Homo sapiens: one gene and its partner. The protein of the gene in region 2 interacts with the protein of the main gene of each other region in a pairwise test. Each region holds a gene or a part of one and is shown on either strand. Other genes may lie near its edges. The genes, in order: EZR and SCYL3.

The links.
Region 1: the proteins of SCYL3 (region 2) and EZR interact in binary tests that used the Homo sapiens proteins (3 or more experiments, as listed by UniProt).

Annotation. Positions count from the first base shown.
Region 1 is NC_000006.12:158,767,246-158,771,064, forward strand, and holds part of EZR (ezrin), read right to left. Parts: intron 3,650-3,819; coding exon 3,519-3,649; intron 2,700-3,518; coding exon 2,539-2,699; intron 2,174-2,538; coding exon 2,081-2,173; intron 268-2,080; coding exon 16-267; intron 1-15. UniProt on the Homo sapiens protein: Probably involved in connections of major cytoskeletal structures to the plasma membrane. In epithelial cells, required for the formation of microvilli and membrane ruffles on the apical pole. Along with PLEKHG6, required for normal macropinocytosis.
Region 2 is NC_000001.11:169,887,136-169,890,954, forward strand, and holds part of SCYL3 (protein-associating with the carboxyl-terminal domain of ezrin), read right to left. Parts: intron 1,756-3,819; 5' UTR 1,706-1,755; coding exon 1,541-1,705; exon of another isoform or gene 1,515-1,540; intron 1-1,514. UniProt on the Homo sapiens protein: May play a role in regulating cell adhesion/migration complexes in migrating cells.

The DNA of each region.
Region 1 (3,819 bases), on a different chromosome or scaffold from region 2:
CCCCTTGGGCCTCACCAGCAGCTGCCGCTGCACACGCTCGTTCTTCTCTGCCTCAGTGATGCGCTTCTCCTCATTGCGGTCATCCCGGATGCCCTCACTAGACAGCTCCGCGCTGTAGCCCGTGGGCTCTGCGCCCTCATCCTGCAAGCTCTCCTGGACATGGTAGCTCACCGGCTCGTACACGGGGGGTGGTGGGGGCGGGGGTGCTGTCATCACCAGGTGCAGCTCCTCCTTGGTCTTCACCAGGTCATCCTGGGCTTCTTTGGCCTTTGGAAAGCAAATTAATAAGAGGACTTCTCACCCAGAAGTCCTATCCTCCTGGCTATGAGAACAGACTGTCACCTCCCTCTGTCCTGGCAGGCTAAGGCAGCACTGAACTGTGCTGGGCTGTGGCTTCGAAGAGGAGCACCCTCAGGGTGCATGGGGGGTTTACAACCCTCTGCGTCCAAGACAGGAAGAGGAACTGTGATGCCGGAACCTGGGCAGTTTTAAAACTACCATTTCTTTTTTTACCTGTAACTCTAGACATTATATAATTTTTAGAAAAAAAATCCTGTTAGCATGAGTAACGGGCTCTGTTCCTAGCCTCCCTTCATGCCACAGTCATTATCAAGTGCTCTCCTGCTCGCCACTTGCAGTCCTTCCAACAGCTTCACACACACCCAGTCCCGCCCGCCTCCATCCCAGCCAGCCCTAGAGTTGAGCTTAGTGTGGATCTGCTTTGTAGCCAGCTCTCCTCACTTAACAGGTACTTTCTCCAAAAACCTAAGAACCAAAGTCTTCCGCTTGCAACTTGGGATGGTGATATGGCTGTGTCCCCACCCAAATCTCATCTCCACCTGTAATCCCCCCATGCTGGGGGTGGGGGGCATTACCTGGTGGGAGGTGACTGGATTACGGGGTGGTTTCCCCTATGCTGTTCTCGTGCTAGTGGGTGGGTTCTGAGCAAGAGCTGATGGTTTCAGTGTTTGGCATTACCCCCCTTTGCTTTTCTCTCTTCTGCCCTCATGTAAGAGGTGCCTGCTTCCCCTTCGCCTTCTGCCACGATTGTAAATTTCCTGAGGCCTCCCCCAGCCATGTGGGACTGTGAGTCAATTAAACCTCTTTTCTTTAACTACCCAGTCTCAGCTTGTTCTTTATAGCCGTTGTGAGAACAGCCTAATACAGATCGGCAGCGGGAATGGGGGCTGGAACAGAGGCAAGGAGGTACTAGGCAGCAGCAGCCCTGGAGAGCCGGGAGACACGTCCCCAGAAGGCACCTCCACAGATGGAGAAGCCACAGTGGGGGAAGGACGGGCCAGCGGGTCTGTGAAGGAGAGGAGCTGCTTAAAGCCTGGTGTGCAGTCTCCAGTGGGAACCATCCCCAGAGCTTCTCAGGGGCTGTGCCTTCCTGGAGGGCACAGGGGATCCCAGACGGAGCGACAAGCTCTGTGTGCGTCCCACAATGAGAGCTACAGCTGACTAAACCTCTGTGCTAGGTCCTGGGCATGGGACCTCGCATCTGCAGAGCAACCTTATGAGTTGGGTATTGCCCCCATTCTACAATGAGGAAAATGAGGCTTGAAGAAGTGATGCTACTAGCCCCCAAATAGCTGATGAGCAGCAGAGCCCAGCTCTCACTCCAGCCTGGAGACGTCCAAGGAGCTGGATCTTTCCATGGTGCCCGCTGTATATACTAGCTGCAGGAGGTCGTGTTTCAGGCACTGCGACCCCATTGCAAGGGGCACATATATAATTAGATTTAAAACCAGTTCCTGACCGGGGGCTGTCAGATCAGCACTGAACAGTTCGGGGTGGAGGGAGCAAAGTGGGTGAAAGTCAATCAGAGGTCCTCCCTCTATGAATCCAGCAGCTGCACTGACTCGTGTACAAAGTCAAACCCATCTCTTTGGGGATGTCTACTTCAGTAGTACAGCTGGTATTGGCAGAGGATCATGAGACATCCCAGAAGCTTCCAGTGGGATGTGGCAGCTTGAGCCAGACCTCTCCCCCAACCCACCCACCTGCAGAAGGGCCCCACCGCAGGCAATTGGGCAACAGGTGCTGTGGCCGTGCGGAGGTGTCCCCCGTGCAGACTCACCCTGTGCTGCCACTCTTCAACTTCATCCTCCTTGCGCCTCCGCGCCTCTTCCAGGAGGGCAATCTTGGCAGTGTATTCTGCAAGCTCCGCAGCCTGGGAAGGGAATGCCAAGCTCACGTCAGTTCTGATATCCTTTCAACGGAGTCCAGTTGTGAATGAGTGTTCATGTGTGTTGGCAAGCAGTCTCCAACGTGACACCTGAGTCCCCGCCACCCCCACTCCATGGCCAGCAGGGTCCATTGTGCACCCCCGGCATCTCTTCCTGGATGCCCACACCCACCTTCAATGGGTGACCCTGGCAACAGCCCAGCCCCTTCCCCACCAGCTGCCTTCAGCCCCCCAGCAGATCAGTTTACAGCTTCCAGTCATGACAATTATTACAAGGCAGGTGTCACATTTTCCATCCTCAGAAGCAGCCTCTCTATAATTCAGCATCTTGAAACTCAGGCCATTCCTACCAGCTGCTCCTGGCTCTTTATCTGATCCACCGCCTGTCTCTCCAGCTCCTCCTTAGCCCGCAGTGCAGCCATACGGTCAGCCTCTAGGCGCTCGGCCTCCTCCTGTGCCCGCTTCCTCTCCTCCTCCAGCTGCAGGGCCCTCTGAATCTGCTCCGAGAGCTCTGCAAAGACACAAAGCCAGAGCCATTCAAACCCTCAGCCCAGGGACCTAGGAGCCCTCGCTTTCCATTCCCACCCCCAAAGCCACAGAGCCCTAGACCAAGTCACAGGTTGAGGGGATGTCTTCCAGTGACCCTGGAGGAAAGCACTTCACAGAGCTCATTGCTGCTGTATCCATGACAACTTCCTCAAGATGGCTAGAAACCCGTCCAACGCCAGCCAGGCGCCCTCTCTCTGGCATGCCTGACTCAACCCTCTTGGCGCTACTCTCCCCAGGTCAGCCGCCCGCTGTGCTGGTGGTCCACACTCCACTCAGAACACAGAACACCCTTCCCATGTGTGCTGTAAGGGCTGCCAGTGAATACAGCATCTGTGGCGCCTTGTGTAATCGGCCCAGCTGCTGGGGTTGTTGACTGGAGCTGTGCTGGGAAGTCTGGCTCTGAACACGCCTTTGGGTTTTAGTCTAGAGGTCGAGGGCAGTGCAGCATGGCCCTGTCAGTCATGGGCTGGGGGACTGTGGGCAAATCACTGTACCGCACCAAACCTTACTGTCCTCATCGGGGAAACTGGGTGATTGAGCACTTACCGCAAAAGACTAGGGAAATTTTAAAATACAAAGTCTTAGAACAACTAGCATCAAAGTTAAATAAGTACAGAACTGTTTTCCAAACCAAATAACCATTTTATCATTTCGGCTGTGAGTCTGCGCTGTGGGACACGTTCTTGGTTTCCTTCCTGGTGAGTGGGTGGGTGGGTGTGGCCCCTGCTACTCTGTGGAAATGCATGACCCAGTGTAGAGTGCCAGCCCCAGGGCGCCTGACCTCTCTCTGCCTTCTTTGTCTTCTCCTCATAGTCCTGCAGCCGCAGCATCAACTCCTCCTTCTCGCGCATCATCTGCTCTTTCTCTCTCTCCACGGTTTCTCTCCTTTTCTTCTCTGTTTCCAGCTGTTGCCTGGTGCAGGGAAAAAGAGGCACAGGGAGATTTAGACTCTGGCAGGAAAGTGAGGGGTCAACACACTTCACGGGTACTTGAAGCTCCAGGATGGACTTGGTATCCTGAGGGCCACCCTAGCCTGCTGCCAGCCTGAGCTGCCTGACGGAGCAGCCGCTCCAGGGCTGACA
Region 2 (3,819 bases):
AATTTCAAATTTCCCAAATTCATATATGAGGTTTTCAAAGCCACAGAATGGCTTAACAAGAGACAAAGATGAACTATGTGCAAAGACTCAGACATGGCTTAAAAGGGTATCTATGAATATTAAGGGGGAATAAGTCTTCCCTCTCAAGCTTCGCAATTCCTTCAGCACAGAAGTCCTCAAAAATGGAGAGTGGTCTTGCTGTTTTTTCCTTTAAAAACTCGATCTAGGTTATTCAATTTTCTTGGTACGTGCACCATAAAGTGTAACACAATTTTAAAAAAATCTTATAAAGAAAAAAATACTAAGAAAGATAAGTCTCTAGTACCTCGCCGATAATAGTTTATTAAAAAAAATGCACAATCTTATTAGATGAAAATAACAGGAGGCATGTTAGACATTAACTGTAAGAACAAGAAAGCGAAGTAAGGCATTTTGTCTTTTGTAAAATCACAATAAAAAATTCTTAACAATACCTAGATGATGTAAAAAAAGAGTCAAAAATGTGGTTCTACCAAAAAGCAAAATTACCTAGCAAGAAAACAGCCAGCTATATACTTTTTACCACCACGCATCTCGAGAGAACTGTTACCCATCTTTTTCTTTAGGAACCATCTTATAACAATTTCATGCTTGATCAAAAATACAACATCAAATAAATTACTGTTGTGAAGACCAAAATTCCATTACTAATATAATCCTTTATAATCATTTTAAAAAAATAAAAACAATTTAGAGTCCTATGAAACAGACATCAATGTTCCATACCTGTTGATAACTAAGGGACTCAAGGTAATAGAGATTATAATTCTAACAAAATCAAGATATCAAGTTCAACTTGAAAATAGCATGCCTACCAGAATAAACACTGGAGAATTAATTTACTAATACAATTACATTTTCCATTTTAGAAGATGATATATCTGAATTCCTAAATTTCCAAAGTGCTAGCTATCCAAAGAAGCATCAACTAATGCCTTCATTTTCCCTAATTCAAAAAGACACTTGGGGTTATTTTATTGACTTACATTCCACAGTAAAATCATTTTTTCTGATAAGAGGCCAGGATCTCCTGAGTGTGTCAGACAGCATGCTAATGCACTGGCACCCTCTGCCTGGAGCAACAATTATAAGGCATGAACTACAAGGATCTTTTCCCTAAGGAGGAAGCTGAAGCCTCCAGAATGATGTCAATACTTAACTGCATTTTGCTAGACGAGATTAACTCCTTATATAGCTCCTTATATCTTATATTAGCTACATAAAAATGTCTCCCTAACTTTCTCACCAGAAAAATAAAATATGATGATAAAAGCCATTGTACTGAGTTTTATGATGTTTTTTGGCTACAGGTATGGTACCTGACCATGTCATGCAAATGGAAGATAGGCCCATGAAGTAAGAGCAATGTTTTGAAAGGACATAAATAAAATACTGGTCCTTATGATCTTACCTCCTTTGAACTTTACTAATTTCATATTTTTTTAAAAGAAAACAAGATAGTAAAAAGTACTAACTATTAAGTCGTCACCTATTATGGTACCTTGGCAGCTTTATTAACCTTGTCTTCATTTTCTCTCTTATACACAAAAACTGAAGCAAATTTGCCATCTTGCAGTACAGCGGGATAAACAGCAAGTCCAGAGGGTAAGGTAAATGGTGGTTCTCTCAGTGTATAGCTCTTTAAAGCACTGTTCTCTGATCCCATCCCTTATGCAGTGAGGCAGTACTGCCACTCTTCCTCAAAGCCAAGCAGATCTAAAAGAAAACAGAAAACAATTTCAAACATTAAATCCCTATCTGCAACATCAACAAGAGATATCCAGACATAGCCACCCCAAACTACTAGTTTCTTTGATCCTCATAACTAGGACATTTGACAGTAAAAATGGTAAACGCTCTGCAAGTTACCAGCAATGGTTGTTAATTAACAACTAACAGCTCTAGAGAAAATGCACATTACTAAATAGTCACAGGTAGTTACTGTCCCTCCCCAAACTCCACCACATACAAACTTTCAGAGTGGAAAGGCAATCAAAAATAGAATAAGGTAATTCATACTTCCTAACTCACTTGTATATCCTCACTCACAAAGGAAAATGTTGTAAAAATATTACTCAAAAACAATAAAACTTCTGTATGTAGAAAATAACTTAAAATTATAAAGGAAAACAATACAAATTGGAGAATACTTATAATGAGGAAAATCATGGTTTTAATATTAATATGTTGAAAAACATTGTTAATATGATGAAAAACATATTAACAAATGAAGAGCTCATATAAACCAAGTAAAACACTAAAACACCAGTACAATAATGGGAAAGAAAACAGACAACTCATTGAAGAAACACAAATGACGATAAACATAAGAAAAAGTACGATCGCACTACTCTTCAAAGCTATCCTAAGTAAAAAGGGGAAACCGCAAAACTGAATCTCAAATAATCTCAATTGCTAAAAAAAAACAAAAGCCCACACATACACAGAATTCAAATGCAACTATGACAAAATACTTCAGTGCTCACCTAGTGAAGGGGCACAGTTAGAGGGATCAAGGGAGAGGAAAGGATTATCATGATGTATGAGGAACTTTTGGGAGGATGGATATATTCATTATCTTGATGATGATGATGGTAACGGGTGATTATGTCAAAACATAAAACTGTACACTTTTTTCATTTATTCTGTATCAATTACGCCTCAAAGTTGTTTTGAAAAGAAATATATGTATACATACACACAGACTTGAAAAATATATGTTGAAGTATTAACAGAGGTTTCCAGTGGAAGGTCAGATTATAGGTAATTTTATACACACACACTTGCCTGCACCTTCCAAATCTTCTACAATATGAACAGCTTTCTTGACAACAGGGATACAAACTCACAGGGTGACAACAGGTAATGTGCAGTGCCCCAGCAGTACTGGCAGCCTGGCAGAGGGACCTACTGTGCGTGCATGGGACCTACTGTGAGAGGCTTGCATTCTGAAGACAGTGGCTATCACAGAGTTCCAACCAGGACTGCAGTTTCAGAACTGTCAGATCATGCCACTTATCGTGAGGAACCAAGAGCCTGAATAGTTTTGTGGAAATCTCCATATTTTTCAATGTTGAATCAAATGTTTTCTAAACCTATATAGGCCAAACAACGTATGTCTGAAAAATCTGTGGCAGTCAGTTTTCAGTGGTGGCTTTACCATAATATAAAAATTAGAAAATAGAGTTCTTACTAACTCTGGCAATGTAGAAAGCAAACTGCTACAAATACGGCCAATAATTCTATGTAGGCCTTTAAAAATTTGTTTAAAATCTGTATTCTTTGGACAAATATAAACTCAATAATCATTACACATTGACCCTCTACTTGGAATTTTTCCCCACTTCGGTGAAATTCCATACAACACCTTCTACACTGGGTATGTAATGCTGCTCAAAACACATGCCTAGAACAAAATTTAAAGTGCCTACCGATCCACAACCATCGTTATATAAGAAACACATGTATAAAGGCTAAAGCTATCTAAAATTGAAGATTTTCAAAATCTAAAAATGTTGCTGAGAATAAGAACTAAATCTGCTTTGTAACAAATTCACTGAATTCCTACCTACCTGGCAATGTATCTTTCTTAAAAATGACAGAGAAGCAAAAAACAGTACTAAAAGAAATGCCAAGTATGGCAACTATGGTAACATTCACCTTTCTACTGGGACTACAAATAAAAAGTTTATGTGGGACCATGGGTAAAAGCAACAATGCTAATCCCTCTGTTCTGGAGATAGAGTGCTGGCCAGATTGTCACAACCTCCTGCTGAGTAG